5 separate regions of the Homo sapiens genome follow, and all the other regions are reported to be linked to region 3. The links are microRNA targets in miRTarBase. Many come from high-throughput screens and were not tested one by one. Region 3 holds a microRNA gene; each other region holds the end of a gene's coding sequence.
What was found. Region 3 holds the annotated microRNA hsa-miR-5580-3p (CACAUAUGAAGUGAGCCAGCAC, at 3,483-3,504, opposite strand). A microRNA usually pairs through its seed, bases 2 to 8, with sites in the 3' UTR of a target mRNA and lowers its output. Matches are read on the target gene's strand: a 7mer-m8 pairs with bases 2 to 8, a 7mer-A1 pairs with bases 2 to 7 and ends in A, and an 8mer does both.

Region 1: miRTarBase lists SPPL2A as a target of hsa-miR-5580-3p. Seed matches in the 3' UTR shown: 7mer-A1 at 5,856-5,862 and 7mer-A1 at 5,878-5,884.
Region 2: miRTarBase lists DHX36 as a target of hsa-miR-5580-3p. Seed matches in the 3' UTR shown: 7mer-A1 at 447-453.
Region 4: the mRNA of DCAF4L1 is a reported target of hsa-miR-5580-3p. Seed matches in the 3' UTR shown: 7mer-A1 at 2,736-2,742 and 7mer-A1 at 2,631-2,637.
Region 5: miRTarBase lists FMNL2 as a target of hsa-miR-5580-3p. Seed matches in the 3' UTR shown: 7mer-A1 at 3,173-3,179.

What each region holds. Positions count from the first base shown.
Region 1 is chr15:50,702,854-50,709,206 of GRCh38, reverse strand. It overlaps SPPL2A (signal peptide peptidase like 2A), which reads left to right. Exons shown (of 15, transcript NM_032802.4): 15 at 1,333-6,353. The coding sequence ends at 1,407. Among named protein-coding and RNA genes, the nearest start is that of TRPM7, 19 kb to the right of the region's middle.
Region 2 is chr3:154,270,161-154,276,457 of GRCh38, reverse strand. DHX36 (DEAH-box helicase 36) reads left to right here. Exons shown (of 25, transcript NM_020865.3): 25 at 102-3,912. The coding sequence ends at 287. Among named protein-coding and RNA genes, the nearest start is that of DHX36, 51 kb to the left of the region's middle.
Region 3 is chr14:53,944,945-53,951,297 of GRCh38, forward strand. It overlaps MIR5580 (microRNA 5580), which reads right to left and starts at 3,540; the gene lies at 3,483-3,540. It overlaps BMP4 (bone morphogenetic protein 4), which reads right to left. Exons shown (of 4, transcript NM_001202.6): 4 at 4,792-5,944. The coding sequence ends at 5,088. RefSeq lists enhancers at 1-531, 872-1,404, 1,405-1,935 and a silencer at 1,906-1,955.
Region 4 is chr4:41,981,388-41,987,740 of GRCh38, reverse strand. It overlaps DCAF4L1 (DDB1 and CUL4 associated factor 4 like 1), which reads right to left and starts at 5,985. Exons shown (of 1, transcript NM_001029955.4): 1 at 1,276-5,985. The coding sequence starts at 5,948. The coding sequence ends at 4,758. RefSeq lists enhancers at 4,723-5,495, 5,055-6,254.
Region 5 is chr2:152,646,469-152,652,821 of GRCh38, forward strand. It overlaps FMNL2 (formin like 2), which reads left to right. Exons shown (of 26, transcript NM_052905.4): 26 at 1,328-3,358. The coding sequence ends at 1,437. PRPF40A (pre-mRNA processing factor 40A) reads right to left here. Exons shown (of 26, transcript NM_001365597.4): 26 at 5,264-6,353. Among named protein-coding and RNA genes, the nearest start is that of PRPF40A, 68 kb to the right of the region's middle. RefSeq lists enhancers at 1-343, 5,445-6,150.

The DNA of each region.
Region 1 (6,353 bases), not on the chromosome of region 3:
TACTTTTTTCTATTTTTAGTAATTGTATTTGAGTTGCTGAAACACTGAAAGCATTTAAACAGTTTCTTCATCCTTCATTTCCAAATATAAGACAATTTTTTATGAGAATATAGGCAGAGCTGAAGTGACCATTTGAGAAAAGTTTAACTGGTAATTTCTTTTTTTTTTTTTGGTCGGAGTCTCGCTCTGTCACCCAGGCTGGAGCGCAGTAGCACGATCTCGGCTCACTGCAAGCTCTGCCTTCTGGGTTCATACCATTCTCCTGCCTCAACCTCCCAATTAGCTGGGACTACAGGCGCTTGCCACCACGCCTGGCTAATTTTTTTTTGTATTTTTTTGTAGAAACGGGGTTTCACTGTGTTAGCCAGGACCATCTGGATCTCCTGATCTCGTGATCCACCCACTTCGGCCTCCCAAAGTGCTGGGATTACAGGCATGAGCCACCGTGCCCAGCTGATAATTTCTTTAAAATAGTCTATAGCAAATGTATTTTTTTTTTTTTTTGACAGAGTCTCACTCTGTTGCCAGGCTAGAGTGCAGTGGCGTGATCTCGGCTCACTGCAACCTCCGCCTCCTGGGTTCAAGCAATTCTCCTGCCTCAGCCTCCCGAGTAGCTGGAACTACAGGCGCCCGCCACTACGCCCAGCTAATTTTTGTATTTTTATTAGAGACGGGGTTTCACCATCTTGGCCAGGCTGGTCTCGAACTCCTGACCTCATGATCTGCCCATCTCAGCCTCCCAAGGTGCTGGGATTACAGGTGTGAGCCACTGCGCCCGGCCTAGCAAATGTATTCTTGGTTTTGTTTTCAGATATCATATGACCTCAAGTTCATTTTTTGTAGAAATTATTATAATGTTTCCAAAGTTTAAATTATCTTACGGTTATTTCAAGGTGTCAATAATATCACACTGTCCCAGAGTCAGCAGGTATTCTCACAGTGACTCATGAGGCCATTTTTAGTTTTCCCATTTGTATGATTGGACACTGCCTGGAATAGTGTCCTGGAATAAGTGTCAGGAATATCTTCCTTTTGTTCTGGAGTTCTCACTGCCATGAAGGGCAGTATTCATATTGGGAAATGGAGATAACGGAAGATCCAGAGAACACAAATTGGCTTTGAGTCATGTGATTAGGCTTCCTGAGAGGTTCAGTGTCACCCTGACTATCTCCTTAGAAGTGTGGATGTTGAACCAGAACAGTGCTCCAGAAGGAGTGCTCAGTTTCATAGAGCAATCTGTGTTTTTTAGAAAAAGAATCCTTTTGCTAATGTAGTGAATATTGGGGGCAAGTTGAAATTTTGCATTTCCTAACGTCTTTTATTTATGCCTAGATGATGGACCATTTGGATTGTGCAACAAATGAAGAAAACCCTGTGATATCTGGTGAACAGATTGTCCAGCAATAATATTATGTGGAACTGCTATAATGTGTCATTGATTTTCTACAAATAGACTTCGACTTTTTAAATTGACTTTTGAATTGACAATCTGAAAGAGTCTTCAATGATATGCTTGCAAAAATATATTTTTATGAGCTGGTACTGACAGTTACATCATAAATAACTAAAACGCTTTGCTTTTAATGTTAAAGTTGTGCCTTCACATTAAATAAAACATATGGTCTGTGTAGTTTCCGAGATGTACTATATACAGTATATTTTTCTAAAAAAAAATGCCTTGACCCACCCCTATACTTTTTTTTAACGAAATCTGTTTCTTTCAGCTCTGATGGTAGATACAAGTAGTTACTATTTCTGAATGGGTTTTACTGTAAAGAATTATGCAAATTGGCCAGGCGCGGTGGCTCACGCCTGTAATCCCAACACTTTGGGAGGCCAAGGCGGGCGGATCACGAGGTCAGGAGATCGAGACCATCCTGGCTAACACGGTGAAACCCCTCTCTACTAAAAATACCAAAAATTAGCTGGGCGTGGTGGAGGGTGCCTGTAGTCCCAGCTACTGGGAAGGCTGAGACAGGAGAATGGCGTGAACCCGGGAAGTGGAGCTTGCAGTGAGCCAAGATCACGCCACTGCACTCCAGCCTGGGCGACAGAGTGAGACTCCATCCCAAAAAAAAAGATTTATGCAAATTATATCTGCTCTGTAGAAATAACTGTTTAACACCATGCAAGAAGGCGGTTCAACGGTGAAAATTTGGACCTTATATCACTGCAGAGGTTAGAAATACATAATTTTGGAAATATAAGTGCATATTTTTGTAGTATTTTTTTAAACCCAATCCTTTCATAAACTTGAGAACTGAAATTACTTCAGACTGCACGTGTATTATATTAAGAACATTTTTCCAGATATAGAGAAACATAATATATAGAACTAGTCACTAAAAGGAGACAGACACTGAAATCTAGTTTTCATTGGTTTGACAGCCTTTTTTTTTTAAATGTAGCTTAAATTTCAGTACTAACATTCAGTTTCACTTTGGTATTTCTGATCTTTGCAATTTGGTTCTGTTAATGTTAAGGTTTGATTTTTTAAAAAAATTATTTTTCTTAAGAAATTATGTATTAATACATATGGCTCATCGTTGAATACAGCATTCCTAACATTATCCCACATTCCCCCACTCCCACCCGTTATCTTTTTTTCTTCCTGATGCCCACCCCTTTTCCCATAGGTAATGATTCTTAATCTTGGTGGAGGATGTACAAAGTGCGGTTCAGAGAAAAGAATTGGCAACAACAGCAAGAGACTTGGTGTTAGTCTCAGTTTAATTACAATACAAGGAAGAGTTGAGTAATTTGCCGCATCTCAAGACCTTGTATCTCAGTTTTCTTTTTTTTTTTTTTTTTTTTTTTGAGACGGAGTCTCGCTCTGTCGCCCAGGCTGGAGTGCAGTGGCGGGATCTCGGCTCACTGCAAGCTCCGCCTCCCGGGTTCACGCCATTCTCCTGCCTCAGCCTCCCAAGTAGCTAGGACTACAGGCGCCCGCCACTACGCCCGGCTATTTTTTGTAGTTTTAGTAGAGACGGGGTTTCACCGTTTTAGCCGGGATGGTCTCGATCTCCTGACCTCGTGATCCGCCCGCCTCGGCCTCCCAAAGTGCTGGGATTACAGGCGTGAGCCACCGCGCCCGGCCATATCTCAGTTTTCTAATCTGTAAAATGAGTAGGTTAGACCAGCTAATCACTCTGGTACCTTCCAACTTGAAAAAAGTTTTTTCCCCATTCTTTGGTAAATTTTAGATGTGGCCTGAACATTCTCCTGGAAGTCAGAGGTCAAATTATCTTTCCATTTTCTTTTATTTTAGTAAGAATTTCGCAAATGACAAGTGATAACAAAGGCAGCAGGATTTTTCATTTCTCTGTAAATAATGTATAAAATATGTGAACAGAACTATATCTTTCATCTAAGGCCAGTTCAATTTATTAAAAATAAAACTAATGCCTTTTAAAATTGATCAGACCTTTGATACTTGAACTAAATTTTGCATTAGAGACTTTTTAAAAATTGTTCGCTTTTGCTGAATAAATTGCAAATAGAGAAGCTTCATTGACAGTCAGTCCCTCTCTGCTTAATGCAGTTATGGGTCCTTTCGTTTATGGCAAATGACTTACCTGACAAGAGTTAATTTTGCCTCCATTGTATCAAGTTTGAATATTTTCCAAGAAATCTGATTTATTTGGCAGACTCTGAGAGAGAGAACAGATTAAGTGCCGTTTTAAAACTCTGTATTTTCATTTATAATAATAAAATATTTGCCAAAATACAGCTGTTTTGTAAAATTATCTGCACCCTCATCCAAGCTTTATATTTAATAGCCTTAATCACATTTTATGAAGAATGTTAAAGAAAATTTTTTTTTTACTACATCGAAATGAGATAATTAATTTCTTTTTTTTTTTTTTGGAAATGGAGTCTCCCTCTGTCACCCAGGCTGGAGTGCAGTAGCAAGATCTTGGCTCACTACAACCTCTGCCTCCTGGTTCAAGCAATTTTCCTGCCTCAGCCTCCCAAGTAGACGGGATTACAGGTGCGTGCCACCACACCTGGCTAATTTTTGTATTTTTAGTAGAGACGGGGTTTCACCTTGTTGGTCAGGCTGGTCTTGAGCTCCTGACCTCATGATCTGCCCGCCTCAGACTCCCCAAGTGCTGGGATTGCAGGCATGAGCCACCGCGCCTGGCAAAATAAGATAATTTCTCAAAATAATTTGGTTTCATATAACTGGAGTAGTAATTAATATTTTAACTTCATCAACTAGATGTATCTCCTCAGTAGCATAGTAACTGGTACATCCAGAAATCTGAAATCCGAGTTACTTGATACAAATTCTACTTTATCTAACCATTAGTTATTAAGGAGGTAAAATCTTGTTCTAATTTGCTATTAAAATCTTATTGGTTAAATAGAAATAAGAAAAAGTATAATTAAGTTTCTTCATCCTCAATGTCAACTTTATATTGTAATTAAATGTGTAGCAACCAAGCTGACAATAGTGATTAAGAAATTAAAGTACAGAAATATTTTATTTGGGGACTCAAAATGAACAAAAGATAGATAAGATTAAAATTTCACTTAAAAAGCTGCCATCTCTTCCTCTCTTGCCCTCCCACCACCAATAACTTTAAGGGGAAGAGAAGCTGGTTTTTTCCCTAAACATGTCTTTAAAATAATGATACACTGTATTTATTAATTCTTGATGCAAAAAAAAAAAAGTTAGAAAATCCCTTTGAACATTTTTGTGGCTTATCAACAGAAATCACTATCTCAAATTGTAATGTAGATTACTTTTGTCTCAGTTTAGTTTAGCAAAAATAAATGTGAGGCTTGTGGGGAAAGACCTTGATATTCTAATACATTATATTTTCTTCTAGCTTGTAGATTTTTTTTTTTTTTTTTTTTTGAGACAGAGTTTCGCTCTTTTTGCCCAGGCTGGAGTGCAATGGCATGATATCAGCTCACTGCAATCTCCGACTCCCGGGTTCAAGCAATTCTCCTGACTCAGCCTCCTGAGTAGCTGGGATTATAGGCATGTGCCACCACACCCGGCTAATATAGTATTTTTAGTAGAGACGGGGTTTCTCCATGTTGATCAGGCTGGTCTCGAACTCCCAACCTGAGGTGATCCGCCCGCCTCAGCCTCCTAAAGTGCTGGGATTACAGGCATGAGCCACCGTGCCTGGCACTTGTAGATTTTTTTTTAGATTAGCAATTCCTTAGTAGAATCTGCAATTTATTTCTCTTTTAAAGAGAATTTTAACCCATCTGCTATTGGCATTCTTATATTTTACTTGTCCATAGAGATTTTAGTGAATTGATACATTTATAATAAATACAAATGAGCTTTCCAGTTTTCTTTGCTCTTTCAATTTATGCTTTAGTATAAGCAAAAATTACTATTTTTACATTTTTAAAAATTGTGGGTACATGTAGGTGTATATATTTATGGAGTGCATGAGATGTTTTGATACAGGTATGCAATGTGAAATAAGCGGATCATGGAGAATGGGGTATCCATTCCCTCAAGCATTTATCCTTTGAGTTATAGACATATTTTACATTTGAATAAAAAATATTTGAACTAAGGCCGGGTGCGGTGGCTCACACCTGTAATCCCAGCACTTTGGGAGGCCAAGGCGGGTGGATCATGAGGTCAGGAGTTTGAGACCAGCCTGACCAACATGGTGAAACCCCGTCTCTACTAAAAATACAAAAATTAGCTGGGTGTGGTGGGGCTCGCCTGTAACCCCAGCTACTCAGGAGACTGAGGCAGGAGAATCGCTTGAACCTGGGAGGTGGAGGTTGCAGTGAGTCGAGATCACACCACTGCACTCCAGCCTGGGCGACAGAGCGAGACTCCATCTCAAAAAAAAAAAAAAAAAAAAAAAATATATATATGTATATATATATATATATATATGTATATATGAACTAATTTATTTAGGCTTAATCTCTAAAATTTCAGCCTGATCTTAACCAATGAAATTTCAAAAACAAAAACTGTACTTCAGTCTACAATTGAATGGAATTCAGTGTAGACCAGTACAATGGAATGTACTGGCTGAGATGGGAGGGTCCCTTGAGCCCAGGAGTTTGAGGCTGTAGTGAGCTGTGATTGTGTCTGTGAATAGTGACTGCACTCCAGCCTAGGTGACATAGCAAGATGCCATCTCAAAGAAATATAGATATATAACATAAAATAAATAACTTTATACATTTCCTGGAGGAAAAGTACTCTGTAAATTCAAGAGATCTGAATCAAATTACTCAACCTTTTGGAATTTGATCCTCTACTGTAATACTCATATGCTAGATTACTGAATTTTCAGAGTGAAAAAAAATTGACAGGGTAATATATAGGCCATATTATAGTGAAGATCATAAGTATAAAT
Region 2 (6,297 bases), not on the chromosome of region 3:
CGCTTGTGAAACTCCTTGTATCAGGTAAATTAGTTTCATTTATTATGTTATTTGGTAATATATCTGCCTTTGTTGAACATGTATAATTTTTCCAACCTTAGGAATTAAGAAAGGAACTAGATATTCTTCTGCAAGAGAAGATTGAAAGTCCTCATCCTGTAGACTGGAATGACACTAAATCCAGAGACTGTGCAGTACTGTCAGCTATTATAGACTTGATCAAAACACAGGAAAAGGCAACTCCCAGGAACTTTCCGCCACGATTCCAGGATGGATATTACAGCTGACAGCTTTTCAGGGGTGGTCTGAAAAGCCAGTTTGACAGCCATTCTTCATCATTGTTTAAATTTTGGCTGGATGCCAAACCCTGGGACATGAACAATTTTCATGTGTAAGGTAGAAGCCTTCAGTAGGTAGTAAAGACTTAATGTGCATGACTTGATGTTATATGTAGAGATATATATATATATATATATATACCATAAAAGCAATATGTTCTCTGATCATATACTCTGCTGTGGTCATGCCCACTCTTTGGGAGTATATTCCCTTTATATATATTGAGTATTGTACCACTTGAGAAATTCCTTTGTTCTGTTATACAAAATTAATCTTTCTGCTCATAATGATTGATGATACCACCAGTAAAAATAGGATGTTTACCCCAAAACAAGTGTCAATTAAGAATTTGAACACAACCACATTTTTTAAAATGAAACTTCTATCGGAAGTAAATTAATTTGTTGTAATAAAGTCCAGTATTTAATAAAATGTACAATGTTAAATCTCAGCCAACCTCTTGGATTGGTTTCTACATTTTCACCTATGGCTTGGTTCATTTGATATTTTTACTATTTTTAAAACACGTGCCCTTTTTATATCACCCTGTGCCTCATAATACAGCAATTGAGAGCACGGTCTGGAGCCTGATTACCTCAGTTCCAGTCTCAGCTCTGTCAGTTAGTCAGTGTCTTGGCTTCTCTCCTTTTTCCTTATCTTGTAAGATACAGTTGGCCCTTCATATCCATGCATTCCACATCTGTGGATTCAAACAACTGTGGATAGAAGATATTTGGGGAAAAAAAGGATGGTTGTGTCTATACTGAACATGTGCAGACTTTTTTCCTTGTCATTCCCTAAACAATACAGTTTAACAGCTATTTATATAGTATTTACATTGTATTAGGTATTATAAATAATCTAGAGATGACTTAAAGAATATGGGAGGTTGTGCCTAGGTAACATGCAAATACTACGCCATTTTATTATAAAAGACTTGAGCATCCATGGATTTAGGTATTTGAGGGGTTGGGGTTGGAAACCAGTCCCCCACAGATACTGAGGGACAACTGTACATGTAACAGTTGTGAGGATGAAGTACATTAATACATGTAAAGCACATAGGCTAGTGCCTGTACTCTCTGAATCTTAGTTGTTATTTGTCCCTGAAATATTTTCGTAAATGTCTAACAATCTATTATATTACACTTTTTATTTTATTGCTACTTATCTTCTTCGCCAAGGAATAGTGTAACAACACATGCTGTACATTTTCAGCCCTATCAGATTGTGATAAATACTGTTGGTTGCCGGCCAGCAACTATTTTGTCCCTCCCTTCTTGCTTGCTTATTCTGGTGTTCCCTTCTGTGCAGCTCTGTGTCCAGGTATGTTGGACCCTTTCCCTAAGGGTGAATCCTGCTGTTCTAAATGAATCACATGTGGTCTTATCCCCCTTATAAGTAATTGATAAGGCATGAGTACATAAACATGTCCTAGTGAATGGCAGCTGAGAAGTGATCTTCAAGGGGGTGTCTGAAAAATGTTTTACTCACTAATAGGCTTAGAGGAGGAAATCCTGCTCTCTCTGGACATTGTCTTTTCTGACTCTGATAGTTGGAACTGCTGCAGCCAACTAATGATCACAAGGAGACACGGACTCAGACTGAGGTTAGCTCAGTGGAAAGATAGAACTCACCAGAGCCTTTGATAATGCCGGTAAGCTTCAGAATTAACCCATTCTAGAGCTGCTTTACATGTGGACTTATGTTGATATAATAAAAACCCTTCAATTGTTTAAGCCACTTTTAATAGGATATTGTTAGTTTTTTGTTGGTTTTTTGTTTTGTTTTGTTTTGTTTTTTGTTTTTTGGAGACAGTGTCTTGCCCTGTCACCCAGGCTGGAGTGCAGTGGTGTGATCTTGGTTCACTGCAGCCTCGACTTCCTGGGTTCAAGTGATCCTTCTGCCTCAGCCTCCCAAATAGCTGGGACTATAGGCATGCATCACCACACCCAGCTAATTTCTGTATTTTTTGTAGAGACACCGTTTCACCATGTTGCCCAGGCTGGTCTCAAAACTCCTGTGCTCAAGCAGTCTGCCCGCCTTGGCTTCCCAAAGTGCTGACATTACAGGTATGAGCCACTGCACCCGGTCCCTAGTAGGGTATTTTTAACTTGGCAAAAAGGGTATTAATCAGAAACATACACTATCCATCACTGAGTATTATACTCTTGATTTTGCAATGTAAGAGTTTTAACCTATTTGTCTGACAGAAGGTGTAAAAGTGCTGGACATGCTGCAGAAAGAAACAGGAAAAGCATCTTGCTGCACTCCAAAGAATGCAAATTTTAATGTGCCTTCCAATAAATGCAAGGAAACCGAAAGAGTTAATAGTATCATACAATGACTGGGATGTATTGATAATGCTACAGTGATCCATTAACAGCACTTGTTCAGGTACTGCTCCCAATCCTGGGAATGTGTGTTACCTGTTATGTCTCAAATCCTTTATCTTGGCTGTTCTTCTAAAAGTGATCTGTCTGTCATTGAATGCTGGCATTAGAGTCATGTCACAATATTAGAGCATACTGGTTTTGCCTCTAACGTCGAGGTGACCATCTGGTCTTTCTTGCTCTGTAAGAGTTTCTGTTTGTGCTTTTTTTTCCCTTACTTTTATTATCCAGTTTAAATCCAGTCAGTTGGCCAAAATGGTCTTGGAAGAAAGGATTTAGAGATTCTGTAAAAAAGATTATTAGTTGGTTCTGTGTTTGCAAACCAGTATGTAATTCCCATATGAATGGGGAAAATGTTCCTGAGGAATTATTTAATTGATGAGGCATTCACAGAGATTAAAGCAGTTATTGTTACCTCCAATTTATGTCTTCTGCACAGCTGATTAGGTTGGACATTTTAATCCAAGGTGCTACTTACATTCTGTTTCTTTTGTTTACAAAATAGGGCATTACTGAGTAGAAAATACATTCCAGGTCTAAGAACTGTTTGTTCTTTAGTGGATTTTAAAGAATAAGACATTAAATTAAGAAGGAAAATCTGTTTGATTCATCATTTTGAGTAATGCAGAGAATAACTCTTAAAAAAAAAACCTGAAACAGAAACTTTCAGGAAAAAAACAAAAGAAATTAAACTACTGAATAATCTTTCAAAAGCATCGTTGAACAGTGAGCACATGTGATGCCTTCCCAATTAATTAATTTGGGCAAAAGCTCTAGATAAACTTACACCAATTGTTGCAAGGCATTCTCTATTACTGCATTTTTAAAACAAAGTCCTCCCCTAAAAGTTATGAATTATACAAAAGCTTTAGGAGGAATTTTAGTACTCCTTTACCCAAAATAAATAGTGGTAAATTTCCTTCTGTTCTTAGCTCTGAGTTTGTATTTATTTATAAGTCATTGTGATCATGTATACTTATATATTTTTAATATGCTAATTGCTTTTAAATGGGATTTTTGTTCTGATTTTAAAATAATACATCCTCCCTGGACAATATTTGGAAATGTAGCAAAGTAAATCATGTTACCATTGTTCCATTTTGATATATATAAACTTTAGGTATTATTTTATATATAATAAATTTTAAGATATTATATACAATAAAATTAACCAATTTAAGTATATGATTCAGTGAATTTTGTCAAACATATAGTAGTGTAATTACCACCACCACAATCTTGATACAGAACTTTTTTTTCCCCAGAGATGGAGTTTCGCACTGTCACCCAGGCTGGAATGCAATGGCGCAATCTCGGCTCACTGCAACCTTCGTCTGCCCGGGTTCAAGCAATTCTCTGGCCTCAGCCTCCTGAGTAGCTGGGATTACAGGCACGCGCCGCCATGCCCGGCTAACTTTTGTATTTTTAGTAGAGATGGGGTTTCACCATGTTGGCCAGGCTGGTCTCGAACTCCTGACCTCATGATCCACCTGCCTCGGCCTCCCAAAGTGCTGGGATTACAGGCGTGAACCACCACACCCAGCTGATATAGAACATTTGTATCACCTAAAAATTTCCCTTTTACCCCTTTGTAGTCAATCCCTCACCCCCACTTCTATCCCCTCGAAACCCATTGATCTGCGTTTTGTCACTTTTCGTTTTGCCTTTTCTAGAATTTCAAATAACCAGTCTTTTGTGTCCAGCTTCTTTCACTTAATGTAATACTTTTGAGATACTGATATTGTTACATGTATTAGTAGGTAGTTCCTGTTTTATCTTCTATTCAGTAGTATTTGCATTGTATAGTTATACCACAGTTTGTTAATTCATTTACCAGTTGATGGACATTTGAGTTGTTTTCAGTTTTTTTGCTGTTATGAATAAAGCTGCTATGAACATATGTATATAAGTCTTTGTGTGGTTATATGTTTTCATTTGTCTTGGGTAAATACCTAAGATTAAGGTTGTTGTATTATAGTAAGTGTGTTTGTATAAGAAACTGCTAAACTGTTTTCAGAATTTGCTGAAATTTTACATTCCCAACAGCAATGTGTGTTGGGGGGGTCAGAGTATTCCACATCCTTGCCAGTACTTGGTATTTTTAGCTGTCGTTTTAATTTTAGCCTTTAGTGGATGAGGAGTCCTGTCCCATTATGGTTTAATTTTTGTTTCTAAAATGATTAATGATGAGCATCTTTTCATGTTGTTTGCTTTTTCCTTAGTTATCTTATGTATTTCTGTTTGGGTTTTGATTTTTCATCTCATGTCAAATGATTGGAGTTTTAAGGATATATCTGACTACGGAGAAGGAAGATTACTAATTAATTTTAGAGATACAAAAAGTTGTTATTTACATTCCTTGAGATTTATAATGGCCAGATGTGTTACTCTTGACTTGGTTGGTAAAGTGTAAAGAGTTAAGCCAGTGTTATTAAGTGCCAGGAGAGACTAGCACCAGTTTTATATAGTTATGAAGGCAAGAGGTGTATTCATCATGAGGTGAAGAATGGGACATAAGAAAAAATATTTATTAGTATTGGGAAAGTCATTGGAGATAAGGAAAACAGCTGATATGGAAGCACTGTAGAGGCGATCTACTGTGGATGATAGAGAACTTTTAAATTGTGACTACCTTTTTTTTTCTGGTTCTTAAATTTGATTCATATCTTAATGGTCTGGTATAAATTTTTGAGTTGTATTTTTCTATTTCTGAGTCCTTATGTAGTATATTATGTTACCTTTACACAGTGAACATCATGGTTGGGAATAAAATTAACTTTAGCAAAGCTTTAATTTAATGAAAAAGTGATTCCTTGGTGACTTTTATCTTTTAGGCCCTTTTAAATATTTCAATACTTAATCTTTCCCATAGCTTCCATTCACCTCACTTTTCTCTTAATGGCTGTTTCTCCTGTTAAATGAGAGAGTTTGATTATTTTTACTTGTTCTGGAAGCCAATTTTTTTCTTGTTTATTCAAGCAAAGGCAAAACAGACCTATCTCTAACGTTTTTGTGGTGTCTGAAGTAAGAATATAAATGGAAGCCAACATACTAGATCTCTAAATATTTTAAAATTTTAAATTAGTTTAACAAACTTAAATAAAACGTCCTTTTAGCCAGGTGTGGTGGCTCATTCCTGTAATCCCAGCCGTTTGGAAGGCCAAGGTGGGTGGATCATTTGAGCCCATGAATTCAAGACCAGCCTGGGCAACATGGTGAAACCCTGTCTTTACAAAAATTACAAAAATGAGCCAGGCATGGTGGCATGTGCCTGTAGTCTCAGCTACTCAGGAGGCTGAGATGGAAGGATTGCTTAAGCCTGGGAGGTCAGGGCTGCAGTGAGCCACTGCACTCCAGTCTGGGCAGCAGAGCAAGACCCTGTCTCAAAAAACTCCTTTTGACAGATACACATTAATAATGACAAAATAAAAAATGGCATAAAACAATATTGAAGATGACTTTTAGCCATAGTTTCTTATTTTTTCGAAATATTCTTTTTTGCATCAATTGGCACAGTAACCATATGTTTTTTTCTTTAGCTTGTTAATATTGTAGATTGCTGTCT
Region 3 (6,353 bases):
GGGAGAGAGAAATAATTACAGGACTAAACTATTGAGTCTAGCCAATTAAAATCTCAATCAGTGTGCTTTAGACTGTTTAGAGAATTATCTGCTGATGAGGGCTTCAGTTAATAAAACTGGAAAAAACATATTGCTAAAGTAACAGTAATGAAATTTTGCAAAACTAGAATCTACTTGCACCAGGCTACCAGGTTCCAGGATTTGGGGTAGGGAACTTTGTAGTCATTTAAAAATATTTTTGCTAGAAATCAAGCTATAAAAAGTTAAAAGATCAATGAGATCTTTTCTTTAGAAAATGTGGCAAAACTGACTGAAAGCTGGACTTCAGAAATTCTCATTAGTAACACAACGCAGCAAATTATTCTTCCATCTTGTCTTCTTTTCCTCAAATTTCACATTTTTGAGGTAAACATTTTGGAATCCGACAGTATTTTCTGAATTGTTTGTTCTGAACAGCATACTATAACTTTTATATTTTCACTTAGTTTATAAAGAATATTTTGAAGAGCGAGCGAAAGCAGAAACAACTGGAACTTGCTGCAGTTAATGCTTTAAATAAAGTGACTTATGAATGGTAATTTCAAATGGCTTCCAAGCTGAAAAAAAATTTTAGATTTTTTTCTAGAATTGACTCAAAGTTGCACACCTTGAACTTTTGACTCCTTTTTCAAAATAATTTCTGTGTGTTTTTTTTTTAACATTAGAGCAATTTGACATTTTTCCTAAAATCAGCCACTTTTCTCCACTGGTGAGCATTGCAGTTCTGTTTATTTATTCTGCCATTAGGTGCTAAATGCATAGGGAAATGAGATCCTTGCAATCCCACCTAGACCACATTTCTAACCACTCTGAATTTAATTTCCAGTTATAGTTTTCAGAATTGTGCTAGTTTGTATCACAAGGTAAGCCTGAATAACTTTGCATCAATTCTAATTTGGCAGTCCACCAGTTATCCTAAATTCCCCTAGGGAATACTAATAACCTTCTGATTCCCAGGTAATGTAAGGTCACCAACGTTGCATTTGCATTATTCTTTTCCTTTTCAAAAGAGAGTATGTGAATAGTTTGTAAAATTGGTTTTGTGTTGAAGCAAAAGTATCTTTGATGACAAATAGTTCGGAGACCTGGGCCTGGGATAAGCTTTATGCTCCTGGCTCACCTTTGGAGAGGGAGTGGGGGCGGGCACGGTGAGTCCCCGGTCCAGAGGCCCTGCGGAGGTCAGCTGAGGTGCTGTCATTATGTATCATGGCTTGGCATCTCATTTCTGAAAGCAATCGTCCAGCTCCACTCTTGCACACCCGTGGCCTCTCCCGTTCACCTCCGTCCCCCGACTGTTGGGGAGCGGGGCCCTGGCTGCAGTTCAGCTGGGACCCAGGGCTCTCCGTGTCCCCAAGGGGCCCAAGACAGCGGCTCAGCCTTCAGGGCCAGTCTGCAGGTCCGACCCTCACCCAGCGGGCCTGTTTCCCACTCGCCCACGTCCCCGCTCCCATTGAGTCACCCCCATATGCAGGCCCACTGTGAGCTCGGAGGCAGGAGAGCCTCGCTCCCTAATTCCCGCTCTCTGCCCCCTACAGAAAACCCCTAAAGGTCTCGACCCCTCTTAAGCCCCTCCACCCCGGGGAGCCTTCCCCTGCAGACTCCACGCTTCTGCGCGGCCTTTTGACCCCATTTCGCATGAAATCTGCAGAGCGACCGCCCCAAGGACCAGCGAGCGCTAATCAGATCCGTCTGTGTCTGCAGAGCTTCACCTGAGGCCTGGGTCCCCGAGGGCGGATGAGCGGGCCGGCTCTCGGGCCCGGGCTGGGGGACCCGCAGTCCGCGGTCGGCGGGGATGGGGAGGGGTGGCCGCCTGCCGCGCGGCTCCCGCGGGCCGTCGCCAGGTGCACGGTCCCCCTGGTCCCCCGCAGGGAGGACGCCCCCTGGTGCCCCCGCCGCCGCCGGGCCTGGGAGCTCCAGAGCGGGCGGGAGGCGGGGTCGGCGGGGCTGGATCTTGACGCCAGTCCAAGGCCGGGTGACTACTGGGGTCTGCCCGCGCCGCGGACGCGCCGAGCCCTCTCAGTGTGGCGCTGCCCGGCGGCGAGGGGGGTGTGGAACGAAGCACGGTCAAGACAGAAAACAAAGTCAGCAGGTCACCTGGCAGGTTCTGGGCGAATTATGCAACGAAAGCAGGGGAATGTTTGATGCGTCCCACTCCACACCCCCCCAACCTTTTTTTTTTTTTTTTAAGCTCCTAGGAAGCCGGTTCCAGTTTAAGGGTTGGGTAGGGATCGACCAAGCAGCTCCTCTGATGTGGTTACGACTTTGCCGAACTCCTCAAGGGCGAGCTTCCCTCCCCATCTTTCTTTCAGTAATAGGAACATTACTCTGGAGAAAAAAAAAAAAAAAAAACATGAATGGGGTGAAATGGTAGGCTTGATCCAAAAGCAACGCCGAGAATCACCCTACGACTTCCGTCAGGTACTGAACTGAATATTAGGCAAAAATAGTAAATGCCGAAACCTAAATCACACACATCCAATTTTTTTTATTTTTTTTTTAATCTCCCCGGGTCTCAGGACTAAGCTTTCAAACAGAATTTAAAGAGTTAACGCTGGCCATAGCTCTTTGTTTTCCATGCTAACATTTGTGGCATTAGGACTATTTTGTTAACTAGGTATATGCAATTCACAGAATTTCACGGTAAATTCCCCAGACCAAATATTTGGCTGAACAAATAAACAACATTATCCATTCCTGAAAATAAGCCAGTAGGAGCGGGGAGGATGGAGGAAGGGGCTGGTTGCTAGAACTGGACAGCCACAGGGCTCAGTACTGGCCCTAGGATAATTTGTTCAAGTACTGGAGATCTACTGGTTCCTTTTCAATGACATCGACGTTTCAGAAAGTTGCTAGAAATTGGGCAAAACAAAATGAGGCTGCCTGAGGGCAATCTATAAGGGGCTTCCCTAAATGATTTATTTGAGCTCCATACCATTAATCAAAGGGGCAGCGACCTGGGGGGTTGGAGGGGTGGGGGAAGGATCCCTTTTTGCGGGGAGTTTTGGAGGAACTGTGTAGTCTTGCTGCCTTTGCCTGGGGCTCTGATGTCTTCTCTCCACCTGCGCTCTCCGGGGAGCTGGGGTTTTGGCAACCACCCCGCTTCAATTTTTATTGGTTTCCACTAAGCTGCTCCTTTTGGAGGAGTGTAGGACTTCAGTAATTAAAAACAAAAATGAATCCTGCTTCACCCACTCCACTCCCAGGAGCGTATGTAAGAAAGTGTGTACAAGAATGCAAGGGTGCACACCCCACCTAGAAAAATGCAAACGCCAGGAGTGTGCACCACACACATTCTTTGGGTGCACACACCACCAGCAACAGCAATACTACCGCTCATATCTACACCTTCATGATGGAGAAATGCGCTATCAGCCTTCCCCACAGAGAACATACAAAGACACTAAATGTTTCTGCTCCAAAGGGATCCAAAGGGATCTTGGTCTGTGCTGGCTCACTTCATATGTGTGAATTTTCTCAGCACACATATGAAATGAGCCAGCACAGACCAAGATTCAAGGCTTAATTTAGTTGTTGGTGGCAAGTAAGAAAAAGCAAAGGCCTCTCCTCTGCTCCTCTTAATCCCTACACCCGTCATTCCAGAAAGGCATTTATCTGCCTGCTGGGAGCCCTTAACTGAGGGTACATTAGCATCCTCCTTTTTATTAACTTTGTCCAAAAATTGAGCTTTTCCCTTTAAGAAACCCTAGCACAGAACATCAGATCTACCTCTTTCTGCCCAAGTCCAGGGAAGAGGGTGTGAGGGAGGCAGTACAGAGCGAAAAGGAGAGTTGACATTTGACTCGAGATTTCTGTATAATAGTGGGACACCTTCACAGTGCCTGCTTAGAAATTCTGACCCTTTAGTATCTGACCCCATTGTCAACCCCCACCCAGCCCAATCTGTTGGGATCCTAAACTTGATGAAGGCCTTCACATTGGGAAAAGAGGACAAGGGAAAAAGTCAAGAAACAATGGGAAATTCTATCAAGTGGCATATTAAAACAGTAGTCATCAAACTTTTTGAAGGTAGGGTACATTATTTGTTACAAAAAAAAAAAAAAAAGACAAAATAGCAGTGCATGCCTGTAATCCCAAAGAGGCCGAAATGAGAAGATTGCTTGAGCCCAGGAGTTCAAGACCAGCCTGGGGCAACAAAGAGAGAACTTGTTTCAAAAAAAAAAAAAGACAAAAGAAAAAACAAAAGAGTCCTACCTGGAGAAAAAAAAAATAAGTTTAAAAACATGCCTTCACACACACATTATGATGTTAGTGTACAAATTAGTTTTGATTTGGAAATATCACATTGGTACCTGTAATAACTGGAGATACCCTGAGGTATCATGAAAGCAGAGGTGGGTATCATTTTTCTAGGGTTGAGACCTCATCACGCTCAGCTGTGATACACCTCAACAGGTGAGTGAAACAGAAGATGTACAAGGGGCCTGAAATGAAGTCTTTAATCTGACCTACACTCCTTTCATCCCAGTGTTTCTCCAAGGCATGTGTCATCCAGATGGGAGAGGATACTGCATCCTTGTTAACATTAAATAGAAATAGAAAACAATTCATGCTGGCAATTACCATCTCTCTCTGCCAACAGTTTACTTCCTGTCCCTACAACTTAACCACCTCCAGGTACCACCTTTTGACTTCCATCCAGCCTCCAACTCACCTGAACAGAAAAAAGCCTCATTCAAAAGAGATGAGCCCGAAGGAAAAGAGAAAGGATTAAGGAGAAAAAAAAAATCATGATTTACCTTTAAAATAATGACTCATTTTATTTTTTTCTTTTAATACGTAGTTATAAATATATTTTGTCAAAATATATGATCAATATGGTCAAAACATTTGCACGTAAAGTCATAAATAAGGTCAAGGTGAATGTTTAGGGATTTTTTCCTTTTTTTTTTTTTTTTTTAAATAAAAGTCCAGCTATAAGGAAGCAGTCTGTGTAGTGTGTGGGTGAGTGGATGGGAACGTGTGTGTGTGGTGTATGTGGTGTGTGTGTGTGGTGTGTATATCTGTCTATCCTCAAGGACTGCCTGATCTCAGCGGCACCCACATCCCTCTACTACCATCTCCTGATAATTTTTCAGTACCACCTTATCATACTCATCCAGGTACAGCATGGAGATGGCACTCAGTTCAGTGGGCACACAACAGGCTTTGGGGATACTGGAATTGACAGAATTGACCAGGGTCTGCACAATGGCATGGTTGGTTGAGTTGAGGTGGTCAGCCAGTGGAAAGGGGCAGTCCCCATGGCAGTAGAAGGCCTGGTAGCCTGGTGGGGCCACAATCCAGTCATTCCAGCCCACATCGCTGAAGTCCACATAGAGCGAGTGGCGCCGGCAGTTCTTATTCTTCTTCCTGGCCCGCTGTGAGTGATGCTTAGGGCTACGCTTGGCCCTCCGGCGTCGGGTCAAGGCATGGCCCCGGCCATCATGGCCAAAGGTGACCAGGAGGGGCCGGAGCTGGGCCCAATTCCCACTCCCTTGAGGTAACGATCGGCTAATCCTGACATGCTGGCCCTGGTGGGTCCGAGTCTGATGGAGGTGAGTCACCTCAATGGCTAGCCCATAGTTTGGCTGCTTCTCCCGGGTCCAGCGAAGGACCGCAGGGCTCACATCAAAAGTTTCCCACCGTGTCACATTGTGGTGGACCAGTCTCGTGTCCAGTAGTCGTGTGATGAGGTGCCCAGGCACCACTTCTGCTGGGGGCTTCATAACCTCATAAATGTTTATACGGTGGAAGCCCCTTTCCCAATCAGGGCCCTGGTCCACCTGCTCCCGGAAGAGCCGAAGCTCTGCAGAGGAGATCACCTCGTTCTCAGGGATGCTGCTGAGGTTAAAGAGGAAACGAAAAGCAGAGTTTTCACTGGTCCCTGGGATGTTCTCCAGATGTTCTAGGCACAGTTAGGAAGGAAGGGGAAAAGAAAAAGCATATGAACTTTTTTCAAAGATGGAAGAGTCAAGAGATAGCTCAGGGTTGGGCAATGAATGGTGAATTCTGCTTATGCAGGGGAAACCTACTGGGGGAAAATAAGCATACCCCTTAATTTGAAGGAGCAGATAAGTGGGGCAGCTAACAAACCAGCAAAATGTAGCTAGCATTTCTCAAGCACCAAAGACAGAAACTATATCCAGCCTCCTTGATATGTCTAATAATTTCTATGTGTCAACTCCTCTATGGCACCACAATCAGACTCCTCTTTTAAACCCCCCACCTTGGCTTTGTGTCCACAGTTTTCTTTACAAGTGGTTGTAAAGAAAAAGAGGGGCCAACAGAGCACAGGCAGGAGGAAACATGCAGAC
Region 4 (6,353 bases), not on the chromosome of region 3:
TTTTTTTCTTTGCCTCTAGGAGTGGGGGAGGAGGGAGCTTGCCCACCTGAACACTTCAATAAGAAAATGGCCCAGCCTGGCCAACATGGCAAAACTTTTTCTCTACTAAAAATACAAAAATTAACTGAGAGTGGTGGTGCACACCTGTAATCCCAGCTACTCGGGAGGCTGAGGAATAAGAATCACTTGAACCCAGAAAGTGGGGGTTGCAGCGAAACGAGATTATACCACTGCACTACAACCTGGGCAACAAAGTGAGACTCTGTCTTGAAAAAAAAAGAAGCAAGAAAGAAAATGGCTTATAGCCAGGTGCTAGTGGCTCATGCCTGTAATGCCAGCACTTTGGGAGGTTAAGGCAAGAGGCCAGAAGTTCAAGACCAGCCTGGGCAACACGATAAGATCCCATCTGTACCAAAAAAAAACAAACAGAAAACAAAACTGGCTTATACATGGGTAAAAAGAATTACCTGGTCACACCCCCTCTCCTGTACAACAATGGTCAGAAGCAATAAGGGTCTGCACAGACACATTTGGCCTGTAAAGGCAAACATGCAAAAGAAATGAAACATGCACTTGATGTGGTTTCTGACCAGGTCTGACCAGGTTGCTAATCCTCGTCTCCATTTTTCAGAGAGGTGAAAGGTTTTTTCTACAGTTCACTTAGCAAGAATGTCACAGAAGATGGAATCAGACTCAGGTCCTCTAACTCCAAATCAGTTTACATGGTTGAGTGAGCATTGCAGAGGAGGAGAGAAGGAAGGAGTGGCTTGTTCTTACAGGTTTTCCCTCTGACATTATCCTATGAAATTACTTGTGGGATTTTTTTTGTCACAATTATCTTGTCAAATAGCCATTTAGTAGTCCACTACCATTAAACTTACGTTCACTCTTTGCCACTTCCATCCAAGAAAAGGAGAATGATTTCTCCAATGATAACTGTATTCCTGGATCATAGCTCTCTTATTCAACACTTCTTAGCTTCTCCAATAAAAGCTCCTTCTCTGCAATTTACCTGGTATGGTGGAGAAAAAATTACACATACACACACTTTTCCTTAGAGGGTAGTGAACAAGATTCATATTACAGCTGGAATAATTGAGTTATTAAATACTCCTGGAGGCAAGAGACTGACTGTTTGATAACCTTTATCCTTGAGAAGAATTAAGCTGAGACAGAGCATGGAGGTGTAATATTTTTAGAGAGGGCAGCATTTGTGAAGAGTCAATTCCTTCCCCAAAGCCACAGGTGGGGGCAGCAAGAGAAAGTCTTACTAGGTTTTTTAAAATTTAACTTTTTATTGAAGTATAATACACACAAGACATATATTAAGGGCATAGCTCTAACAATTATCACTAGTGAACAAAAACTGTGTAGCCAGTACCCCGCTATAGAGAGGATGCACCTGACAGCAGTAACAACCATATCCTGAGAACGACCCTGTGATCTAAAACGAATGTGTGCTCAGAATCCCAAACTAAGGAAACAGGAGCGACTAACCCTGAGTTTCACTCCTTATCTATGAAGGACGTCTGAACCCCCAGCCCATCCCTTACAACACAGGCAATATAGGGGATCAAGGTCCTTTGCTTTGGGTTAAATGGAGGTTGCTAGGTGGAGTGTGCTAAATGAAAATGCTATATAAACTGCATGCTTTTTACAAACAGTAGTGGTTCTTCTGTCCAGCCTACTACCACTGGACCATCCCTATATATAAGTTCCCCCAATAAACCCAAGTCTTGTTCGCTGTCTACGCATCTTCTTTGGACTCTCGGACACAGTGCCATTACTATTGGAGTCACTAGGGGTCTGGCATGACACCAGCATTGCTAGCTTCCTAGAATCTTCTTCTGGTCACTACTCTTCTGCCCTACAAGTATACCATTAATCCTGCTTCTAAGAACATAGATTCATTTTGCCTGTTTAGGGACTTTATGTGCATTAGTTGTACAATATGTGCTCTTTTGTGTTTGGCATCTTTATTTCAACATTATGTTTGCAGGATTTGTCCATAGTGCTATGCTCATTCTCACTGCAAAAAGGATTCCATTGTGTTAATATCCCACAATTTATCCACTCTACTATTAATGAACATTTGGGTAGTTTCCAGTTGGAGCTATTAACAAATTATGGTGGACACAGGTATGCATTTCTGATTAATATATTCCTAGGACTGAAATGACTGGGTCATAGAGTATGCAAACTTCTAGCTTTAGCAATTACTAACTTTTCCAAGTGCTTGTACCAGTATACACTCAACAGTATATGAAAGTTCTATTTGCTCACAACTGCACCAACATTTGCTTCTCTTTTAATTCCCAACGTCACTCCACCTGATCTATTTTATTTTAACCATTATAGTGAAAGTGGTGTGGCATTGTGGTTTTAATTTGCATTTCCTTGACAATAAAAGAAGTTGGATGCCTTTTCAAATGTATATTAGCCATTTGGATCTCCTCTTTTTCTCCTATTCAAGACTATTGCCTCCCTTTCTTTTAGGTGTGTTTTTCTTACTGATTTTTTTTTTGCATTTGTTTTCTTTGCAAATGAGGATAAACAGTTTATCAAGTTATGTAGTCATTTTTTGTCAATTGCCAAATAAATGACATATCAGTATCAGACATATATATATATACATATATATGTCTGCAGCTAGTTCTTACTGAATGATTGCAATGTCTTTTCTTCATTAATTGTTTTGTTTTATTTTGAATGCTTACAATGTAAAAGGGACAAGATACATATCCTTTAACCCTGTATCTACTTTATCATTTAGTTTTATTATCTAAGACATTTTACACTGAAGAAACAACAGCAAGTAAAGCTTACACAATTTCTCATGTCACATATCAAGTTAGTATAAAAAACTGACTGAAAGGATTCCAAAAATCTGTGCCTAACCATACTCCCATATCTTCTCTATTGATCTACTCATCTTCTATCAATATGTAATTACATTAACCTCATCTATGTCATATAAAGCACATCTATCCCATCTATTTTAATTCTATGTATTGAAGTCACCAAATTTGTATTACCAGCCATGACATGACCCCTGATCTGCAGAATACTTTGTATCTCCAATTGGAGGTTTAGTAGATGTCTAAAACTCAGCATCATTCCCTTCACCTAAAGTTTTTTCTCCTCATCCTCCCCAGGTTAGTAAACGACACCATCATCTACCAGTTCTAAAGTTAACAAAAAAGCTGCCATCCTCAGAGCTTGCAGTGAGCCGAGATCGCGCCACTGCACTCCAGCCTGGGCGACAGAAGGAGACTCCGTCTCAAAAAAAAAAAAAAAAAAGCTGCCATCCTTTTTTCTTTCACTTTCTAGTTTACTCTCATCAGCAAGCCTTATCAATAATACTACCTTCGAATGATCTTCCAATGCAATCATTTCTGATCATTTCTACTTCTCACACATGCAGGTCCAAGGCATCATTGTCCCTTGCCTAACTACAATAGTGTCCTAATTGCTTATTTTTATTTTTTGAGGAATAACATATATACAGTAAACTATAAAAACGTGAAGCATATAGATATATGAATTACGTATGTATCAAGTGTCAAGATAAAGAAAACTCAGCATTCCTAAAGCTTCCCCATGTCACTTCTCAAACATCCTAAAAAGAAAAAGAAAAAAAAATCCTTTCTTTCTACAGAGGTACGTACTACTCTACCTTTAATCACCATAGACAAGTTTTTACTGCTTTTGAACTTTAGAATTGAATCATACAGTTTGTACTCATTTCTACCTAATTTCAGTCAACATGTTGAGATTGGTCCATACTGTTTCACATAGCAAGTGTGCCTTATTTTCTATTATTATGCAGTATCCGATTGTATGATTATATCACGAATTTTAGCATTTTCGAAATTCAGATCATTTCCAGGCTTTGGCTATTAAGAAGTAGCAACTAACCTTATTACACGTTTTTTTTCTTCCTTGCTTAGTAGAAAAACAGGCTCTTTAACATTTTTAATAAATCTCTCACAAACTGCTGCTCCTAGATTACAAAAAGTCAAAGCCAATTCCTTGAATCTGAACTTCAAGTCACCATAATAGAAACCGGAGCTGCTGTACCTTACATTCTGAAAGGTACCTCAACAAAAGCACATCAAGGACTGTTTAAAACTTCTAGTATTTAAAAAGATCCATCTTTCCTTCCAATGCCTATGGATGATAACAATAAAAGGAGAACCTTAAGAGATCTGCTATTGAGTTTGAGAAGGCCAAATTTAATGATTCCAAACTCCAGCCTTAAATATTTCTGTAGAGACTCTGAGAAATTACCTCTCCCTTGTCTCCACTCCCACTGGCTTCCTCAAGCGCAGATGCCTGGGACCCTGTATGATTAGTCAAACAGTCTTACCAGTACCATCATTATGCTTCTCTAAAGGGCTACTAGTGAAAGAAGCTGCTTTAATTTATTTTAGTTTTTGCCAATCTTCAGTCCTTAGAAAAGTCTTAATTATTTAAAAAAAAAAAGGGTTGGGGAGGTGGTTAACTGTTCTAAGGCATTCAACAAGAGGAAACAGGTACCTTTTATGAAAAGGACTTTCAAGTTAAGTCCACAGTTTAACTGAAATAACTTTACAAGAACGTCTCCACATAAAACTCTTAACACCTTACCCCTGGCAGCCGGATGGATGCGATCTATATACAACACGTCTCTTAAAATGCTCTCACAGAAACGGTAATAAGATACTCTTAACTTCCTTAAGTCAAATCCACATTCGGCCGCGCTGCCACCTGCAGAATTAGCTGAAGGGGAAACAATAAAGGTCCTGCCGGACAGCCATGAGCAGCCCTGGTGCTGCTCCCCGGATGCCCCCGAGCCGAGAAGCGAAGGCCACGCTGGGAATGTCGTCCTCGGAGGCAGAGTACGGGGAAGGGATGGTTCTGAGCAGGTGGGCATCATGGAGGCTCCAGATTCTCGTGTAGCAGTCCTGGCCCACTGCCACCACGATTCCCTCTTCCTCGTGCACATGCAGGGGCAGATAGGCGGACTCATTCACGTGACCTTCGTACTGCCTTACACATTTAGTGGCCCTCAGATCCCACAGCTTGATCTTTCCAGTCATGTCTGATGCCATCAGGCATTGCTCTTCTTGGAGGATTTGCACAGAGGTCACTGCTGAGTCATGGAACAGGCGAGTGGCCCTCCACCCCTTGCCTCGATTTCTACAACGCAGATCAATGGCAAAGATCTCCCCGGAGCGACAGCCATTAAACAGCAAAGGAGCCGTACTAGCAAACTGCTGGGCCAAGACATCACTGCTGGTATCAAATGACTGCTGGTGTCCCGTCGCCACGCTGGTCAACAGGACCTGCTGAGACAAGCCTGCACTAAAGCAGTGATATGCCCGGGTGTTGAGGGACCACGCACAGGACCAGGCCTCTGGGATCTGGAAACTGCAGAGCATGCCAGGCTGGTTAACTCTTGTGTGAACACTTAAGAACCGCGACGCTGGGAGCAGCACTGCACAGCTTGGAGCATCTGTGATTCCCTCGAAGCACAGCAGAACGTGAGAGTCCAACTGGTTCAGCGAGGCCCAGCACAGGGACTTCACCTTCCGGTTGGGGACGTAGAGGTTTCTGAGCACGTACACGTGGAACGAAGGGATCTTCAGAGTTCGCAGGCTGATGATGCCGTACTTGGAGCCTTCGACTTCGACCTGGTTCACTACGAAGAGCTGGTCGCTGTTGGTACTCGCCAGAATGAAGTTAAATCGGTCGCTCGCCAAAGAGGAGGGATCCAAGCTCCGAATTTGGACCTTTTTCCGCTCCATGCAGCTCACACGCAGCTCGTTGGCTAAACGGGAGTAACTGGTGACGTTGAGGAAACCTAGCTGGCTTTTTCGGAGCATGGAAGATGCATTAAATCCCATTCTGGCTACCTTTTTCAGCTTGGCCTCTTCCTCGAGGAGTCGCAGCCTTTCAGCCTCCATTTCCTCCTGCGGAATGTTCCTCGTGACAGGAAATTCTGCAGGATGTTCTTCTCCGTGACAGGATGTTCTTTTCCGTGACAGGAAGTTCCGTCCGGGTGCAAGCGGAAGTGTTGCTACTTTTTATCCTCTCTATTCTAGGAGGAAGTCCATTGTTACAGATGTGTATTACAAATCTCTTTTCCTACTCTGTGGGTTGTCGTATTCTCTCAGTGGTGTCTTGATGAAAGGAAGTTCTTGATGTTAAATTTTTTCCTTTCTCTTTTTGAGACAGGGTCTTGCTCTTTCACCCAGGCTGGAGTCCAGTGGCACGACCACGGCTCACTGCAGCCTGGAACTCCTGGGCTCAAGTGATTCTCCTACCTCTGCCCTACTTAGCTGGGACTATGGGCTCACAACACCATGCCA
Region 5 (6,353 bases), not on the chromosome of region 3:
CTGTGTAGGAACTGGGGCCCGGTTTTGCCAGATCTTCCAGTTTTTCAAAAGAAGCCAGAAACCCTGGTCTTTATGTTAATTACCAATTTAAACACCAGGAAACTGTACATGTGCGGGGGGTGGGGGGGCACAGTGGAGCAAACATTCTGTGGGTCAAATGTGGTCCATCAGCTGCATTTTCAACTTGTTGAGTAGATAAAGGGATACAAAAGATTCAATTTGGTTTAATTCTGTTATTTGTTTGTATTTCCCTTTCTAAAGATAGCATGTATTCTAGCAGAAGTCAACAATACTAAGTTAATGAAAGGGAAGTAAATACTAATTAAACAGGAAAAGTATAAAGCCTGCTTTACTTTTTTCACTATGCCCTGACTTCATCAAAGGGAGGCTGCATAGCCTAGCCTGCTGGCTAGCTACCTGACTTACTCAAGAAAGCATGCCTTCATACTGAGTTCTTGTATAAAATTCCTCTGCTCCTCCCACTTCATCCTGACAGAGCAATGCCTATTTGGACTGGTATGCAGTGATTGACTCATTCATTTAACAAGGATTTTCTTATGCAGGAGGGCCCACACAACTACTTCTTGCTGACGTAACATAAAAAATATTGGGTGGTAGAGCTCGGTAGTCCCCACTTCTCAGGAGGCTGAGGTGGGAGAATCGCTTGAGACTGGTTCAAGTCTGGCCTGGACAACATAACAAGACCCCATTTCTTAAAAAAAATAGGTGGCAGAAAAGGATGCCAGGGAATAGATTATTATTTTGGTTTAGATTTAATGGTTAATTGAACATCATTTTGTTTAAAATTTACAAAATAATAAACTCAGCTAGCTTAATGGAATGAAAATAATAGAGCCCTTATCTGCAAACTGAAGGTCTTTAGGTTCTTGTTAAAACTGCGAGGAAAAGATGGGACAGGACAGTCTGCTTTATTAATTTTGCAGTTTAAAATTTATTGCAGTTACTATTTATTCATTCAGGCTTCCAGAATAAAAACAAAACAAAAAAATTAAGCTACAGCTGCTTCTAATTTAAGAAACATTTCAAAATAAGACTTCAGCTAGACTCTGGCCAGTGACAGAAATAATCTATGTATTTTTCTCTCAAAGTCCTAGAATCCTACCAGTATTACATCCTGTTTTGTTTGATTGTAAATATTGAAGGCAAATGTTTTATGTCTTTGATTCAATGCTCAGTGAGTTTGAAGGGCCCATTAGCTGACTTTTCTACACAAGCTGCTTTGATTGGCTGCCAGCTGGCCTTTGTCCTGCTTAGACACATGCTATTAAAGGTTGCTATTCTCTCACTGGCACTCTCCCCTTTACAGATCTTAGAAACCAACCATACAGACGAGCCGATGCGGTGAGGAGAAGCGTCAGGCGGCGCTTTGATGATCAGAACTTGCGTTCTGTTAATGGTGCCGAAATAACAATGTGAACCTGAGACTGGCCTGCATGAATACAGGGTGTGCGTGAATGAAACTGCCCACATGAACTTTATGTGCTACGATTTAACTGCAGCCTTGAACACACACAAAAATATTCTTAAGGGCTCAGATTTAGCAAACACGGAAGAATTTTAAAATGAGCTCTCCTTTCAACCCTTGTTAACAAGTGCCTAAAAATGGAAGTACCTGTTCAGATTAATCAAAGCAATAGGATTTGATTTGATTAGGTATCTTTTTACACCAGTATGTTATTTTTAACCAAAATGTAAAGTTCTTATTAAACTCATTACCTGCCATTGTGATTGTCCCATCATGGCCCACCTGGTTTCCTGATGTTGTAAATAACATCAATGCATCTGCTGTGGGTCCTTTGCTGAGATGTCTTCGAAGGAATTTTGTTTTAGCCATATCCATCAACTTTGTATTTTACTTGCAATTTGGAAGAAGGAAAGTCACATGATGAAACTCCTTTTGTCTATAACCAGGCCCTGGCAAAGTGCAAACAGGATGCAACTGCAGTGGCACAAAGGTCACTCAATCCTTTGTTTCCAGTTTCACATTCTACTACTTCTGCGCTAGAGAACGATGCTCTGTGAGAGGCATTCACTAGTATGAATGTGGGGATATAGTGTATAAGACTTATTTGCAGTACTGTGTTCTTCAGCTAGAGGCAGCTTTTTAAATAATGCAAGTGTATTTATTAGCATTAAAATTAACATCTCAGTAATCAGCATTAGCATTTCTGAGGACCATTATTAATTCTGAGAACAGAAATTGGTGCCTTGCAAGGAAGTTTACTAGCTCTATCAACAAGCATTCAAGGTTACATCTGCTAGCAGAGTAGTGTTAGGAACCTGGCCTTACTCTCCTCTGACAATCGCAATTTTTTCTTATTTTTTATAAATTCAAGAAGATACACTTGGCATCGTGTATCGAGGCTAAGTTTTTCATGCATTTCCCAGACTACTTATGGAGAATTGCAGTTTAAGTTGCTGAAAAGTATTAACATGGTATTAAGCTTAAATAATACGTAATGGGACTAGATGGCCCACTAAGCCACTGTTATTTTCCTTCCTCTCTGGCAGGGCACTTGATCCATTCCAAAGTCAAAAACTGGACTGAAGCTAAATTTGTACTTTTCATAATATACATTCTGCTTCTGGCTTATCTTCTTGGTACATCAATATATTAATTGTAAAGTTTATTGTATAGTATTTAACCGCTGAAGTTCCTATTTTATGTTGTGCTTATGTGAACCCCTTGGTGAAGGTCCCTTTTCCTTGGATGTGTAGTTATATGATCTTTTTAAATGTACAGATATTTTGCTATAAAATCGGTGCAGTTTTTTATGGTTTTTACACTTCTCTTTAATTCCCACCTAAGCCTCTGGGTAATATTGTAAATATTGTTTTAAAATGCATCAGCCTATGCTATACAATCTGAATGTTATTTTAACTTATAGTTTTTTTTAATATATATATTTAACTATAAGGACAGTTTAGGGAACAAGTTACCTACCACATTTCACTTTAGTGTACCTATTTACAGAAAGATTAAACTGCCACCTGCGGGCACATTCCCATAAATGTGTACTTTACTTTAAAAAGAACATGCCACGATTTTGTCTTTCTGTGGACTCAACATTCACTTCGATTAAAAATAGCAATTTGACCAAGTTGGACTTCCACTACAAAGCAGCTGTTTTCCAAAGTTCAATGCTGACATATATGTATATTAAAATAATTGCCTATTTATTAATCTACAAATAGACAACGTTGGCATGTTCTTTTCTGTTTGTCTATTAATGGGCCTGCTTCTTAGCAATATTAGAATGTTTTATAAAAGCAATTCATGTTACTTTTCTGGTCTTTTCATGGCATATGAGCAAATAATAAACTATTTACACTACTATTCTGTAATATGTTGTAATCTTTCAATGGTACAATTTAGGGGGTTTTAGCAATATTATGTAGACTTACCTTCTAGAAACAAATATATCTTGCTATTTGAACTCAGAATCCAAATATACTTGGTAAACGTCAGGAAGGATTCCTCCCTATGTGAACTCTTGACCGCTTGCTATATAAAACATAGACAATGGATCTTGGAAGTGAGACTACATCTCCAAAATTGCATTTATAAACATACACCTTCTAGGTAAACAGCACCTTTGTTTGGTGAAATGCCACAACGCCCCCAGCAGCCCCACCAAATGTTACAATTAGGATGTTGTACAAATAAAGATAATAGGCTATATATTAACTGCATAGTTAACCCTGCACCCAATAACCATACCAGTTGGCAAGGCAAACAAGCAGTTTGGCCCCCATTGCACAAACAGTTGTAATAAAACTCCCAGTCATCAAAAGTTTATGTGTAACATTTCATATGTTCTTTTTATGGAAACAAGAAAAATTTTAAATTTTAGAATACCTTTCAAGTGGCTTAAATTTAGAGGCATATATATTATAGTCATTTAAGGAATTATAATTTATATAATTATTGTCACAACTACCACAGCGTACTTTGCATTTGTCACACACAACTGCTTACAGATTAAAGGCAATAATCTTTATTCCTCACAAGAAGCCTGTGAGGTATTTAACACTGTTGTGCACATTGGGAAACTGACTCAGCAAACTGACTTGCCCAGGGTGCAATCTAATAAATGCCTATAATAAAGCCTTAGGTCTTTTGTTCGCAATTCAGTGCACTTTCCACTAAACCAGTTATACAATGTGTTAGAAGCTTTATTTTATGAGAGAAAAAGTCTTGCGATCAGTAAGGATCTCTACTTTTGTTTTACCATCAGACTGGTGCCTAATGGTAAAAGAAAAATCTTTTAATATTCCACAAATTCAGAATGTTTTCAAACTCAACTACAGCAGTTAAGTTCAAATGAGGCAGATAGAGTAACATTCATCTTTCTTTTAAAAGGTATTTACCAATGACTTTGAATTAAATACTCACGTTCCCCACTCCCCATCATCTAACACTGAAATTCACTGCAGTGCCCAGTGGCCATCCTGACTCAACTCTGCTCTCAATAGAATAGGGCTTGATACCCATCACTGACTCTGCTTTGGTTCAACATACTGGAATCTTCTCTGTAGAATAAGGTGATTTTACACTGGAAAATAAATAGATGATACATTTCTTATACTCGCTCCATAATCCACATTTTGTTTGTTAGACAAGGTCTGGCTCTATCACCTAGGATGGAATGCAGTGGTACAATCTCGGCTCAGGGCAACCTCTGCCTCTTGGGCTCAAGCCATCCTCCCACTTCAGCCTCCCGAGTAGCTGGGACTGTAGATACGCACAACCACACCTGGCTAATTTTTCTAGAAATAGGGTTTTGCCGTGTTGCCCAGGCTGGTCTCAAACTCCTGAGCTCAAGTGATCTGCCTGCCTCATCCTCCCCAAGTGTTGGGATTACAGGCACAAACCATTGTGCCCAGCCACACATACCTATTTAATGTTTGATAACTCTTCTTAACCCTAATATATTTCCTAATTTTTATCAGAAATGTCTCCAAAGATGAATTTATCAGATTTCATCAAAAGGATTTGTTTTCCATTTCTTTTTAAACTAACAGCCCATCTATGCCCAAGAAAAATCTGAAGAAACAAACATGTACGTGAAATCAGTGATGGGTTTTTTTTTTTTTTTTAAGTCTTTTTATCAAGAAAAAGAGGAATTACACTGAGAAAACATAACGTGGGCCTCCAGCAACTCTCACAGCATAGAGCTTGCTGCCTGAGTGGTGCTTAAAGGAAAAAACTGACACAAATCCAATTTAGTAAAAGATACCATTTTTTCTAATAAATTATATTTATTTACAAAAGGTCTAATTTTATATAACTATGAGGTTCTTTTACATCAGAATAATATATAAACAGAGGTGAAAATCTGGTAATTACAAACACAGAAAATAGAAACCTTGTTCCCTTATTTATTACTCACCTTTCAGAACAAGTCCTTGGCTCAGTTGTAGAGGTGGGGAAGACCAACACCTACCGAAGTTTGCAGGCAGGAGCCCCCAAAAATGTTTATAAATAACACATTTAGATACCCTAAGGAACAGCAGTGAAGAATAGCATCAAGGAATGGCTTAGTTTGAATCTGATCTAATTCACCAGCCACTCACTGTTTCATTGTCCACGACTAGGGGCAGGGAGGATTAGCCAGTATGAATGTCAACTTTACAAGTAGGGTAATTACCATCAAATTAACAATTACCAATCACTAGCACTGAGATGGCTTTGAACTAGATCCTACTGAGAATCACAAAAGCAGTTTTGATAGTCTTAAGCTATTATAGCTAAGTGTCTTAAAATGGAGGGTTAGGGAGAATGTGTGGGTAATTAGAGCAAAATCATCTCTCACTTTCCACCTCACCTTTAAGACAGCTCCAAAAAACTGAGTGCCTGACATGTCACCATATTTCAGCCCTATTCAAAAATAGCCCAAAATGATGAGTTTTCAACTTTAAATTGTATGTTCTCACAAGTTTTGGACATGTCTGAAGTAAAAGCTAAGGTACAGTCACTGGACCTTATTTTGGGTGCACTTCAATTATGACTGTGACTTTAGTGGTGGGTTAGTATGGTTTATTGCAATGATGCTTTTTTAAGCCCTTTAATACAGATGATGGGTACCATGGATGCCAGATGAATACATATTTCAACTAGTATTTTACATTCATTCCAAAAGTGCCTATTATATGCCAGGCACTGTCCTATTCCACAAGGATATATAACAGTAAATGAACCAGATAAATCCCTGCCACCGAGGAACTTACATGACCACCAGTTAAAATCAAAACAATTGGAAGAGTAATGTAAGAATAAGGATGGTAAGAATCATCAGACTGGTATACGCCATTACCAGAAGCACAGAATG